Linked DNA regions of Homo sapiens. The protein of the gene in region 1 interacts with the protein of each later gene in a biochemical or structural test. Each region holds a gene or a part of one and is shown in the gene's direction. Other genes may lie near its edges.

Evidence for each region. The genes of interacting proteins can lie anywhere in the genome.
Region 2: the proteins of MTCL1 (region 1) and TUBB3 form a complex in vitro, tested with the Homo sapiens proteins (one study listed by BioGRID).
Region 3: the proteins of MTCL1 (region 1) and MARK2 form a complex in vitro, tested with the Homo sapiens proteins (one study listed by BioGRID).

The regions. Positions count from the first base shown.
Region 1 is NC_000018.10:8,819,471-8,825,026, forward strand, and holds part of MTCL1 (microtubule cross-linking factor 1), read left to right. Parts: intron 1-1,996; coding exon 1,997-2,028; intron 2,029-4,700; coding exon of another isoform or gene 4,701-4,746; exon of another isoform or gene 4,747-4,888; intron 4,889-5,228; coding exon 5,229-5,556. UniProt on the Homo sapiens protein: Microtubule-associated factor involved in the late phase of epithelial polarization and microtubule dynamics regulation.
Region 2 is NC_000016.10:89,933,342-89,937,625, forward strand, and holds the end of TUBB3 (tubulin beta-3 chain), read left to right. Parts: intron 1-126; coding exon 127-237; intron 238-1,387; coding exon 1,388-2,463; 3' UTR 2,464-2,756; downstream 2,757-4,284. UniProt on the Homo sapiens protein: Tubulin is the major constituent of microtubules, protein filaments consisting of alpha- and beta-tubulin heterodimers. Microtubules grow by the addition of GTP-tubulin dimers to the microtubule end, where a stabilizing cap forms.
Region 3 is NC_000011.10:63,842,110-63,846,637, forward strand, and holds part of MARK2 (serine/threonine-protein kinase MARK2), read left to right. Parts: intron 1-4,528. UniProt on the Homo sapiens protein: Serine/threonine-protein kinase. Involved in cell polarity and microtubule dynamics regulation. Phosphorylates CRTC2/TORC2, DCX, HDAC7, KIF13B, MAP2, MAP4 and RAB11FIP2. Phosphorylates the microtubule-associated protein MAPT/TAU.

The DNA.
Region 1 (5,556 bases):
CCTTGTTTCAGGTTTAGAAATACTGGACTAGAGTCCTATACAAAAGGAAGGTCTCACAAATAAGTGTGTCCCATAAAACACACAAGAGGAAGTAAATAATTCTGGGAAGTGTATATGCTCAACTTTTTCTTTTTTCTTTTGATTTTTTTGGAGATGGAGGTCTCACTCTCTTGCCCAGGGTGGAGTGGAGTGTCTGATAACGACTCACCACAGCCGTGACCTCCTAGGCTCAATTGATCCTTCCCCCTCAGCCTCCTGAGTAGCTGGGACCACAGGCACATGCTACCATGCCTGGCTAATTTATTTTGTTTTATTTTTTAAGTAGAGACAGGGTCTCCCTATGTTGCCCAAGCTGGTCTCGAACTCCTGGGCTCAAGTGATCTGTCTGCCTTGGCTTCCCAAAGTGCCGGGATTACAGGTATGAGCTACCACACCCAGCCTCAACTTTTCTTGAAATAATAGTACAGTCTTCTGAGTCTAGAAAACTAATAACCAAAAATATTCTGGGCAAAGGGAAAAAAATCCAACACTTAGAAACCTTACATAAATTAGACCACCAAATGGGTGAGCTAAGCTGTAGACATTTCCATGGCACAGCGTTAGTTATGTTTTTCTGGTTTTAATATTTTTAAAACCTTGTTTTAAAAGTTGTTCTAGGGCCGGATGTGGTGGCTCATGCCTGTAATCCCAGCACTTTGGGAGGCCGAGGTGGGCGGATCACGAGGTCAGGAGATCGAGACCATCCTGGCTAACACGGTGAAACCCTGTCTCTACTAAAAATACAAAAAAATTAGCCAGGCGTGGTGGCGGGTGCCTGTAGTCCCAGCTACTTGGGAGACTGAGGCAGGAGAATGGCGTGAACCCAGGAGGCGGAGCTTGTAGTGAGCCAAGATCGCGCCACTGCACTCCAGCCTGGGCGACAGAGCAAGACTCCATCCAAAAAAAAAAAGTTGATTCTAGGACTCATTACCTGTGAAGCAGTTCAACAGTTGCTGCACCTATCATTTGGTCTCCTAAACACTCAAGACTTAGAAGAGTTCATATCAAATAGTGTTATTGAAGTATGCAGAAATTATATTTCACCCACATCAGTAAGGTCAAATGCCTTATCCTCAGCAATGTGTACCAGGTTGATAGGACATTGCCACAGTCCCACCCTGTCTGATCTATTGGCAATCTTATACAGTCCGATTACATAGTAGAGGTAACGTGGGGTGGGGTCAGGAGCCTGTGCGTGGGTTCCAGCCCACTGGACCCTGCATGGCAGAGACAAGGGGCATGCTCATTAAGGGGAAGGGTACCCCTTGCTATTTACTGTCTTGAAAAATATGCTTCCCTTACTGTTAGTCAGAGTCTTGCTGCTTCAAAACCACATCAGCACAAGAGTGTTTTCTCAGCAGACAACCTCGTGTTTATGCCGTTCTCTACAAACACAGCTATCATTCTTCTTAAAGGGGAAGGCACTGTACTTTGCCTCTGATTCTAAATGGGAATGTTTAAAACCAACCAAGTGCCCGAGTCTAAGGATGTCACGCCAACTTCTACAGCAAGATCGGGACCACTAACGTTACTCTATCACCTTCCATCTTTCTCTCTAACATAACACATGCACACTCTCTCTCTCTCTCTCAGTCTCACTCTCACACTTAGGTTGTTACAAATCCCGCTTTGAAATTCATGTAGTCAGTGAGGTCCTTTGAGGAAGCACAGAAGAGCCACCTCCTCCATGACAAAGTTTATAGCCAGTTGTTCTCACTCATGTGGGCTTCTCCCTGGACTACAGAAGCTCCAGCCCCTCATCATGCTGTGGACTCGCTTTGATGATTGTACTTTAAAGGCCTCAGGGCAGTAGCACTCCTAACCAGAGCTTGGCCTCAGTGCACATTTTAAATGGTGGTTTCCTGGGGGTGCAGAGCAAACAAATCACTTAAGTACATTCAGGGCTTCTGGACAACCAAAATTAACCGATTCAGATGAAGTTATTTCTTCTTTATAGGAAGAAGAAAATCACAAAGGAAATCTTCAAAGGTAAGTAAGATTGATGAAAATAATAGATTACTAGAATAAAAATGTCTTGGTCTTAAAATGTTGTTTTGTCAATGCAGTCTATTTTACCACTCTCTTCAAAATGACTTAAAATTATGCCACTTCTGAAGAAGTGGCTGCTTTATTATTCATTTCATAAACATGGTATTTTTGATTATTAACAAAGAAGTTAGACGTGCTGTGTCACATGTGTATGAGTTTTATGGTAAGGACTTTCCAGTTGTTGTTGTGTTATGTATACAAAGGAATGCTTGTGTTGAGTGGTTTTTGAAAGGTCCATGGAAACCTCTCTTTTCTCATTTAAAGTCTGGGAAAACTCTCTTTTGTATGCTGTGAGATGCTTTATACACTGTATTTAAAAGCTCCACTAAGAGAATTTATTAAAATATTTTCTGGCAGTAGTCCTTGAAGAAGATATATAGTGGTTGATGTGGTTGTTAGTTACACACCAGTTTTTTCCTCCCCAGTTTAATTTCCTCCAGTTTTACTTTTTCATCATTCTCCAAATGAATACATACCGTTTCTACTACATGAAATTTCTTCTCAGGCAATTCAGCATTTCCAGATCGCCTCATCCTTGATTTTCCTCTGAACTTCGAGTCTGTGAATGACTGTCCTCTTCCCATTTGCTCCCTGCCAGATCTCTGCAGCACCTAGCCATGCCTGTGGCACACTTCTGTCCTTCACGCTGTCTTCTCTGGTCTTTCTTGGGTGGTACAGGACAGTACTTGAGAGCTCAGGCTCTAGAGCCAAACTGCCTGGGTTGGTTGGTTGGTTGGTTGGTTGGTTGATTTTTGAAATGGAGTCTCGCTCTGTCTCCCAGGCTGGAGTACAGTGGCACAATCTTGGCTCACTGCAACCTCTGCCCCCTGGGTTCAAGCAATTCTGCATCAGCCTCCCAAGTAGCTGGGATTACAGGCAAACCCCACCATACCCGGCTAATTTTTGTCTTTTAATAGAAACAGAGTTTCGCCATGTTGGCCAGGCTGGTCTCGAATTCCTGACCTCAGGTGATCCACCCGCCTCAGCCTCCCGAAGTGCTGGGATTACAGGCGTGAGCCACTGTGCCCAGCCCAAACTGCCTGGGTTTGAATCGCTTCTGCCTCCTTGGGTAGGTTACTCAACTGCTTTGTGCCTCAGTTTCCTCATCTGTATACAGGACGTATTTTGATTATCTTTTTTTTTTGCAGCTTATGTATGTTAATACACATAATGAAAGCAGCACATGGCACAAAACAAACAGTAAACAGAGTTTAGTCATTACACCCTCCCACCTTCCCCGTTCACAGCAGCAGCCACATCAGTGTTTCCGGTTAGGCTTTGGAGCAACTGTACTTCACCACTCAAGCCATCAACTTTTATGCTTTCAAAAGTAACACATGCTTGTTATAAAATGTAAATATTGGCTGAGGCAGGAAAATTGACCGAACCCGGGAGGCGGAGGTTGCAGTGAACCGAGATTGCGCCACTGCACTACATCCTGGGCGACAGAGTAAGACTCCGTCTCAAAAAAAAAAAAAGATAGATAGATAGATAGATAGTCTCAAAATATCCAAAGTGGAAACTGGATGCGCCCTCCCCACTGTCCCCATGTCCTCTGATTCTGACTGCCCGGTATGTTTCCACCATACTCTCTTCGTTCCACCTGCAAGCGCCTACACATGCTCCAGATGTATCCCGGGTTTTCTCATCATGGTTTTGTTTGCTTTGGCCACTGCTGAGGTTAATGCCTCTGCTTTCTCTGTCTTTATCATCTCTGTTCCACCATATCCATCCATGCCCCAGAGGCACTGAGTTCCCACCCAGGTAGGTGCCACTGATTTAACTCTGAGACAGTTCCTCTGTGGGCAAAAGTGGGAGTTAGATGAGCTATGTCCACAGAAATGTGGAAAGGACCAGGGTGTTGGCATGTGTCCGGCACTTACAGTCCCCAGCGAACAGTGTTCTGAAACTCATCATTAATTCAGCAACTCCTTGAATTGAGAAGAGGGAAATTCATACTTGCTGGAAAGCTCATGACCTTGGGACAAATCAACCCATCCCTACCATTGCCCTTCCTTTCCGGCACTGGATATAGCCAGCTTGTGGTTATTCAAAGCACCACTGGACAGTTTGTAGATTATTTCTAACAACAAAAAGATAACAAGATGGAATGCCTAACGATGTCACTTTTAGCCTGCTGTTTTACCCCGTGGTGCTGACCACATGGACGGGTGCCTTGCCCCCAAGGTGAAGCCAGCTGTCAGCAAAGCTGCCCAGAGCTTTGCTGGTTCTGTGTACCAGCGCACACGGTACAGGGACTTGCTCAGAGCAGACCCCAATTCTGGCCTCATCATCATTAATAGGTCCTATGGAGGAGTGGTCCATACACTCAATCTGGGACCCCTTCCACAGGGCCTGCACTAGTCTAGATCCCTAGGTTTAAGCCTGTGCTTTGTGGGGTGAAAGGAGTATCAGTATGTCCTGTAAGAATCTGGACAGTGAGTCTACAGACACCTCATCGCCCCATCCCACCCCAGCTGGAGGGATTCCAGGCCAAAGAGGTTCTGTTGCCTGAGCCAGCAGGCACAGGCAGCCCCAGCCCCGTTCCTGACCACCACTTCTTTGCCCTGGTGGTAGTCGTGCCCGAGCACTCCGGCCACTTTCTGTCTTAGCCTGGAAGCATTGCTGGCACCCCTGCAGCACCTGCCAGGCATGTGAGAGGCATTCAGCGAACTCATGGCAAATTGAAAGTGCTAACACATGGAAGAATCCACACCAAATCTGTGTCCATCAGGTGGCAGCTTGCCAAAACCTGGCCATCGCCGTGGCTCACCGTCTTCACCCTTCAGCTGTGGTCCGAGTGAGTCTCCTGAGAATTCTCACTGAGGCACTGAGGCCTCAAGTGATTCTCCTGTCTTGGCCTCCCAAAGTGTTGGGATTACGGGTGTGAGCCAGAGTTGGTTGTATTAAATTCTGACCAATGCAAGGCTTCAGGAACAATTCCAGAGCCACGCAGAGTCCAATAAATGCCCGCAGGGTAAGTCTGTGAGTGCAGCACATGAGCAGCTGACAGTGTTCTCCTGGTGTGGGTGGCAGCGGGTGCCTTCACTGACACTTCTCATGCAGGGCAGGACATGGGTGTTGTGGTGTGTCAGAGGCTCCCTGGCAGGTACTGACACCCTCTTTTCTGCTTTTCCCAGGGCGGTGTCCGTGTCCTCCATGTCTGAGTTCCAGCGTCTAATGGACATCTCCCCCTTCCTGCCTGAGAAGGGCCTGCCGTCCACCAGCAGCAAGGAGGATGTCACCCCACCCCTGTCTCCAGACGACCTCAAGTACATCGAGGAGTTCAACAAGAGCTGGGACTACACACCCAACAGGGGCCACAATGGTGGGGGGCCGGACCTTTGGGCCGACAGGACCGAGGTGGGGCGGGCAGGGCACGAGGACAGCACAGAGCCTTTCCCCGACTCCTCCTGGTACCTAACCACAAGTGTCACCATGACCACGGACACCATGACCAGCCCAGAG
Region 2 (4,284 bases), on another chromosome or scaffold:
GACTTCAGAGTACAGGCTCTTAGGATGTGAGCAGGAGGATGGCAGGCGGGCACAGAATTCAGAAAGAATGAGGGAGAGGCTCTGGCCCTCTGTGACCCGAATCACCGAGCCCCTCTCTCCCCTCAGCTCACAAGTACGTGCCTCGAGCCATTCTGGTGGACCTGGAACCCGGAACCATGGACAGTGTCCGCTCAGGGGCCTTTGGACATCTCTTCAGGCCTGACAATTTCATCTTTGGTAAGTTCCCCCTGCTCCAAGCTCTGATGGCAGACCCCATCACAGGCAAGCCCAGGTCGGTGGACGGGGACGGCTGTGAGAAACAAGGAATGGTCAGCTCCTCACATGATCCTGAATGGTGGGAACTCATCTCTCCATTTTACAGCTGGGCATTGGAGGCCCAGAGAAAGGGTTCTGTGGGGAGAACAGAAACCACTCATGCATTTCAAGTGGAATGAAGTGTAAAGCAGACAGAAGCTTACAGAATTGCTAGAGAGCTGGTGAGACAGAACGGGGCCTCCAGAGGACTCCGGGGTCCAGGAGCACGAGGCCTTGCTGCGGTCAAGAGATCAGGACGTTCCCATGCCTGTGTCCTGGGGTTGGGCCGTGGATGCCACGTTCCCATGTCTGTGTCCTGGGGCGGGGCCGTGGATGCCACGTTCCCACGTCTGTGTCCTGGGGCGGGGCCGTGGATGCCACGTTCCCACGTCTGTGTCCTGGGGCGGGGCCGTGGATGCCACGTTCCCACGCCTGTGTCCTGGGGCGGGGCCGTGGATGCCACGTTCCCACGCCTGTGTCCTGGGGCGGGGCCGTGGATGCCACGTTCCCATGCCTGTGTCCTGGGGCGGGGCCGTGGATGCCACGTTCCCATGCCTGTGTCCTGGGGCGGGGCCGTGGATGCCACGTTCCCATGTCTGTGTCCTGGGGCGGGGCCGTGGACGCGCCACAGAAACAGGAGGGCCTCGCTTCACTTCTGCCTTCCCGACCGCAGCACATCCAGCTGGTAGATGCCAACTCGCATCCAGCCCCCAGCTGCCAGGGATTCTGGGGTGGCTGTTTGGGCTCCTGGCACTGCCAGTCGGAAGGAAGGTATGCTGGAGCAGGAGGGCTGATCCATTCACCCAGGATCCCCTCAGGAGGCAGAGCCTCGCTCTGCTGTGACCCCAAGTTCTCAAGACTCTGTCCAGAGCCCTCGTCCTGAGCACTCAGCAGCATCGGCTCAGGGAAGCCACGGCGGGTATGAGAAGGGGTGCTCAGTGGGGCCTACTTTACAGAAGACAGAACAGGCATGGGGCTGCCACGGCTGCCCTTGGGATGTTCAGGCAGGGGCTGGAGGTCTGGACTGCAGAGTCCCTGGCCCCTGTCTCTTACCCCTCTTCTCCCTGTACAGGTCAGAGTGGGGCCGGCAACAACTGGGCCAAGGGTCACTACACGGAGGGGGCGGAGCTGGTGGATTCGGTCCTGGATGTGGTGCGGAAGGAGTGTGAAAACTGCGACTGCCTGCAGGGCTTCCAGCTGACCCACTCGCTGGGGGGCGGCACGGGCTCCGGCATGGGCACGTTGCTCATCAGCAAGGTGCGTGAGGAGTATCCCGACCGCATCATGAACACCTTCAGCGTCGTGCCCTCACCCAAGGTGTCAGACACGGTGGTGGAGCCCTACAACGCCACGCTGTCCATCCACCAGCTGGTGGAGAACACGGATGAGACCTACTGCATCGACAACGAGGCGCTCTACGACATCTGCTTCCGCACCCTCAAGCTGGCCACGCCCACCTACGGGGACCTCAACCACCTGGTATCGGCCACCATGAGCGGAGTCACCACCTCCTTGCGCTTCCCGGGCCAGCTCAACGCTGACCTGCGCAAGCTGGCCGTCAACATGGTGCCCTTCCCGCGCCTGCACTTCTTCATGCCCGGCTTCGCCCCCCTCACAGCCCGGGGCAGCCAGCAGTACCGGGCCCTGACCGTGCCCGAGCTCACCCAGCAGATGTTCGATGCCAAGAACATGATGGCCGCCTGCGACCCGCGCCACGGCCGCTACCTGACGGTGGCCACCGTGTTCCGGGGCCGCATGTCCATGAAGGAGGTGGACGAGCAGATGCTGGCCATCCAGAGCAAGAACAGCAGCTACTTCGTGGAGTGGATCCCCAACAACGTGAAGGTGGCCGTGTGTGACATCCCGCCCCGCGGCCTCAAGATGTCCTCCACCTTCATCGGGAACAGCACGGCCATCCAGGAGCTGTTCAAGCGCATCTCCGAGCAGTTCACGGCCATGTTCCGGCGCAAGGCCTTCCTGCACTGGTACACGGGCGAGGGCATGGACGAGATGGAGTTCACCGAGGCCGAGAGCAACATGAACGACCTGGTGTCCGAGTACCAGCAGTACCAGGACGCCACGGCCGAGGAAGAGGGCGAGATGTACGAAGACGACGAGGAGGAGTCGGAGGCCCAGGGCCCCAAGTGAAGCTGCTCGCAGCTGGAGTGAGAGGCAGGTGGCGGCCGGGGCCGAAGCCAGCAGTGTCTAAACCCCCGGAGCCATCTTGCTGCCGACACCCTGCTTTCCCCTCGCCCTAGGGCTCCCTTGCCGCCCTCCTGCAGTATTTATGGCCTCGTCCTCCCCACCTAGGCCACGTGTGAGCTGCTCCTGTCTCTGTCTTATTGCAGCTCCAGGCCTGACGTTTTACGGTTTTGTTTTTTACTGGTTTGTGTTTATATTTTCGGGGATACTTAATAAATCTATTGCTGTCAGATACCCTTGCTTGGTGCCAGAGATGTCCTTTTATTCTGGAAAGTTGTGTCCAGTAGGTGGAGGGGCTGACAGGGAGGCCCGGGTGGACAGGCAAGAAGAGCTCATCCTCTCCCAGGCTGGCGGCTGAGAGAGGCCTGCGCTGGGGGCCGGAATGTGTCTCAAGGCACAGCCCGTGGGGAGACCCCGGAAACGGGAAGCCCGGGAGAAGGAACGGGAAGTACCTCATTCCAGACCTCAAGATGCAGCCCTCCCGACTTGGAAATAACCCCACACTCGTTCCCTGGCCTCCCACAGAGCGGCTTGCACCCCAGACTTTTCTCCCACCTGTCTGTAGGCTGAAAGTTGGGGCAGGTGGTCCCTCCTGCGGTGGAAACTGCCATCAGACCTGAAGCCTCGGGTCACAACCAGGGAGGTAGGGAAGGGGGCCCCGAGTGCTCCCTGAAAAAGACGGTGTGTTTAGTGTCTCGGGGCTGGGCCCTGGGAGGGGCTGCTGAGGTCAGGGAGATGCGGCCACAGGACGCAGGCCTGGGCTGCCGGGAGGGACGTATCAGTCCTCCCGCCCCCGGCAGCCCCTTCCTGGGGTGCATGATACTTGGTGTCCAGCCACACAGGGCATGGCCTGAGGAGCCGCTCACCTGGTTCCCCACATCCTCCTACAGGGACAGAGCCTGGAGCCCAGAGAGGCCGACTGCCCAGCCCTCCACAGTCGCCTCCCTGCCACCCCGCCCCTTGGAGCTGAGGGGCATCAGCAGCCTCAGTCTCCCAGGTTCTGCCCAGTGGTACCCTGAGAGCGGCCCCTTCTTCTTGAATCACCCTTCAACCTGGCAATGGGCGCAGAAGAAGACAGGCCGTGTGCACTGCGGGCCCCAGCTTCAGATGCGAGGGCTGCAGGCCCCAGAGGCCGCCATCTCGAGTTCTGGCCCTGACACCCCCAACATGGATGGGGCCGGGGATGTGTCTCCTCCGCCGGCTGCTGCTGTGTAACAAATCACCCCAAATCTACCTGAAACAGCACGGGATCCTTTCTCTAGACACAGCGTGTTAGCTGGATCCTTCTGCTCCTCACAATGTTGGGAGGGGCCAGCTGCAAGCTCTGACATCTCACTCTTGGGGTTGTCCTCCGCACGGCTGCCTGGCCGACCCCTCGCATGGTGGGGCGGAGGCTGGAACCACGTCTTACATGGCACCGGTTCTTTTTTTCTTTGTGACAGAGTCTCGCTCTGTCGCCTAGGCTGGAGTGCAGTGGCGCAATCTCAGCTCACTGCAAGCTCCGCCTCCCGGGTTCACGCCATTCTCCTGCCTCAGCCTCCTGAGTAGCAGGGACTACGGGCGCCCGCCACCATGCCCGGCTAATTTTTTGTATTTTTAGTAGAGATGGGGTTTCACCATGTTAGCCAGGATGGTCTCCATCTCCTGACCTCAGGATCCGCCCACCTTGGCCTCCCAAAGTGCTGGGATTACAGGCGTGAGCCACCGTCACTGATTCTTAAGTGTGCCAGACCCATGTCAATCACAGGCCTGGCATCACTGTCCCAT
Region 3 (4,528 bases), on another chromosome or scaffold:
CTCAGGGTAGCCAGTCACTGTATCGATTTAATATTAAGTCTCATTCCAGTAAAAGCAGGGACTTTGGAAAACCTTGGATGCACCTATTCCAGACAGATTCCTGTATTCTTTTTTTTTTTTTTTTTTGAGATAGAGTCTCGTTCTGTCGCCAGGCTGGAGTGCAGTGGCACAATCTTGGCTCACTGCAATCTCCGCCTCCTGGGTTCAAGCGATTCCCCTGCCTCAGCCTCCTGAGTAGCTGGGACTACAGGCACACACCGCCACGCCCGGCTAATTTTTTGGATTTTAGTAGAGACAGCGTTTCACCATGTTGTCCAGGATGGTCTCAGTCTCCTGTCCTCGTGATCCGGCCTCCCAAAGTGCTGGGATTACAGGTGTGAGCCACTGCGCCGGGCCTGATTCCTGTATTCTTTAAAACGGGAAAAAAGACAAGCAGCAGCTCCTCAGGTCACAAGGCCAGGTATATCAAACACTGGCCTCCGAGAATAGATCATGCCACCAAGTGAAAGAAACCTCTTCTTGGTCCTGTTGTGATTTTAGATAAAGTAGTCATGGAAGCTTGGTCATTACTATAGTCTTAATGTTATTTTTTTTAAAAAGGGGATTTAGTTGGGCTGATTTCCTCCCCTAAAGGTCCTCTGTCACCTTATTTAAATTTAAAACTGGTTTTACCAGAAAATAGGTAAACAAACACCACTGGTTGTCTCCAGTCTCTTTTCTTGCTCTTCCTCTCCCTCTTCTTTAAAAATGTGGCTGATGAGAACCTGTTTCCAGGAGCCCTTTAATCACTCTGAAACACACAGACACTGAAAATGTTGAAGCATAAAAATAAACCTTGCGTTACAGGGAGATTGCCTGTGTGCTGTCCACTTCGCTTATAACAGTGAAAGTAGGAGATTAAAAAAAAAAAAAAGTTAAGCCCTGTCTTTAAGATGGTTTTTGTGACACCTGATTCCAGATGTGCTTTTTCACAGCCATAGACTTCCTGCTTTTGCAGAAGGAGGGTTCTAATCTGGGGCTCGTAGCTTGGGGGATTCTTAGTTTGTGAGCTGAGCTTTTTGTTCACTTCTTTTCCAAATGACTCTGCTGGCCTGAAGCTTGGCAGTTGTGAAAGCAATCAGCAAGATGACTGTTTGTCTTCCAGCCAGCAGCAGCAGTCACAGGCAAGCCTGGAGAAAGGTCCAGCTTCCAGAGTTCACCTGCTAGAGTTTTCCATAACACCTGGGGGAGAGGCTACTCCATCTGGGACCTGCCCCACCTCTGGGCCTCAGAAACTATGAGAGAGGGATTGAGAGAAAACTTGCCCCACTTCTGCTGCAGTGGGAAGGGAGGGGGCTGCTGTCAGGCTTCTAGGCAGTGAGCGGCATTGTTTATTCTCTCAGTTCTAGGAAGGGGAGTTTAGAAGTACTGGTGAAGAAAACAAAGTTACAAGATCCTATAAGGAACAGCTGAACTACTCCAAACACTCTCACTGGACCCCCATTGTTGATTCTGGATAAAAATATATATATATATAAAACTCTTTTTTTTTTTGACACAGAGTCTTGCTCTGTCGCCCAGGCTGGAGTGTAGCGATGCGATCTCGGCTCACTGCAACCTCCGCCTCCCGGGTCAAGCGATTCTCCTGCCTCAGCCTCCTGGGAGTAGCTGGGACTACAGGCGCCCACCACCATGCTGGCTAATTTTTGTATTTTTAGTAGAGACGGGGTTTTGCCATATTGGCCAAGCTGGTCTCGATCTCCTGACCTCAGGTGATCTGCTGGATAAATATTTTTTTTTTGCTTTTGGTGTAACTTAGGTAGATTGGATCGGCTAGCTAGCATCTCAGTCCACACTCTGAGCTGTGCAGCAGTGTGCCCTGGTGCTAATTCTCACTCTGTCCTTTGATTCTGGCCAGGGGGTCCTTGGTGGTGCTGCCTTCTGGTCAGGAATGTGGGTGAATGTCAGACCAAATAGTGTCACTTTCGGCTTGGCCCTAGAGATCAGGAAGGAAGTGTTGTTAGAGCAAGGGCTTTGGGAGTCCTTGGAGTTCGTAACCTTTGAATCTGAAAAGTAACTGTACCTAGTAAATTAGAATAATTTCTCTCTGGTCAGGCACCATGGCTCATGCCTGTAGTCCTAGCACTTTGGGAAGCCAAGGCAGGAGGATTGCTTGAGGCCAGGAGTTCAAGACCAGCCTGATCAATAAAGTGAGACTCCATCTCTACAAAAAAATTTTTTTAAATTTAGCTGGGCATGGTGGCACATGCCTGTGGTTGCAGCTACACAGAAGGCTGAGGCAGGAGGATGGCTTGAGCTGGGGAGGTCGAGACTGCATTGAGCTGTGTTTGTGCCACTGCACTTCAGCCTGGGTGACAGAGCAAGACACTATCTCAGAAAAAAAAAATTACTTTTCTCCAATTTATGGACTTCGGAAAGTAGCTAAACAGATGGATATAAGACAGTTGTTGAAACTCGGCCTGCTGCAGATTAAAATAAAGTTTGCACAAGGATAACTTAATCTTTCAGACCAACCAAAGTTTGGGCTGGAGATTTTTCTCAGCATAAATGTCCTAAGCAGAGTTGGTGCCTATGAGGTAGGAAAAGATTGAGACTTTGCTTGCCTAAGAGGTTTGCAGGGTTCGAGCTTTTGGGAGTCAGAACTTCTCAGACTAGATTGTTTCCCCTTTGGACAGAACAACCCAATTCTCAGTGGGCATTTGATCAGGACTAACCCAGGCCTTCATGAACTCTTTCCCATTGAGCACTTAGCCACCTGGCTGGCATTTCTCTTCTCCCAGGAGCTTCCATGAGGTTCCTACTTATGTATTATGTCGACTTGAATGAATATTTTATGTCTAGAGTGCAGCCAAGCCTCAGACTTTGTGGCCCATTATCGACAAATGGGGTAGGGGGTGGGCGCCACCTTTGGCCCCGTGATAGCTTCTCTGCTAAATGGACTCCCCCCAGCAGCACTTTGAAGCCCATTAATGGATTGGAATGAAGTAACCTCAGCAGATGGAAAGGGTGAGGAGGGTGGTCATCTTCCTTCCCTGAGACTGCCTGATGAGGCTTTCCTACAGTAACCAGGACAAGCCCCTATTCCCTCTGCTTGGTTAAGCTGTGGACTGGAGCTACTAGGCCTCTGCTTTGAGAGGAAGTATAGAAAGGATTTGATTCTCTTTTAGCCATGGTGGGGCCGCCAGTTTCCCCACTTTCCCATCAAAGCAAAAATTGAGAAGGATGTGGAAAGGGTGGGTGGAGTTTAAAGCTGGCCCTTCCTCCTTCAGTGGAAGTTCAGCAAAATGACAAACCAGATAGGTGGCTAAATTTCCTTCTCTTGATGGGAGATTCCAGTATTTGTACGTTTTGTGCTTGTAGCTTGGATTCTCCAGGCCTCCTCCCAGCTTTCATCAAACATGAGTGAGTCACTGAAGTGTTGTCTATGCATTTTCTCCCTTCTGTCTCTGCAAAGGGAAGAGTAAGCCTTTACAAACCTGTGGGGGAGGAAGTCACCCTCTTCCCACTGCTGGAGAGCCAGGCTATCCCCAGGTTAACCCTGAAAGTGCTAACTCCTGAGCAGAATGTTACTGCCACCCGCCCCCTTCCTTTTTGTTATAGGCCATTGAAGGTCATTGCTCGTCTTTTTTTTTGAGACAGTCTTGCTCTGGTCACCCAGGCTGGAGTGCAGTGGCAGGATCTCAGCTCACTGCAACCTCCACCTACTGGGTTCAAGCGATTCTCATGCCTCAGTCTTCCAAATAACCAGGATTACAGGTGCGCACCTCCATGCCTGGCCACTTTTTGTATTTTTAGTAGAGATAGGGTTTCACCATGTTGGCCAGGCTGGTCTTGAACTCCTGGACTCAAGTGATCCGCCTGCCGTGGCCTCTCAAAGTACTGGGATTACAGGAGTGAGCCACCGCGCCCGGCATCATTGCTTATCTTTTAGACTGAGATAGTACAGCTGATTCTAAACAGCACCCAGAGAGAATCTGGCCTCTTGATTTCCAGTTGTGTCTCAGAGGAGGAGGCATCCCAGTTCCTCCTCTTGCCCTCTAGACATCTCCTCCTCTGATAAGTATAAATAGGCTAGATCCCTTTATCTTCATATCTGTTTTTGTCTGGAATGTTTCAAGTTTCTCAAGCTAGGTGTGGTGGCTCATATCTGTAATCCCAGCACTTCGGGAGGCCACGGCAGGAGGATCACTTGAGCCCAGGAGTTCAAGACCAGCCTGAGCAACATAGTGAGACCTCATTTCTACAAAAAAAAAATTTTTTTTTTGAGACGGAGTCTTGCTCTGTTGCCCAGGCTGGAGTGCAGTGGTGCGATCTCAGCTCACTGCAACCTCCGCCTCCCGGATTCAAGTGATTCTCCTGTCTCAGCCTCTTGAATAGCTGAGATTACAGGTGTACGCCACTGTACCCCGCTAATTTTTGTATTTTTAGTAGAGATGGGGTTTCACCATGTTGGTCAGGCTGGCCTTGAACTCATGACCTCGTGATCTGCCTCAGCCTCCCAAAGTGCTAGGATTATAGGCATGAGTCA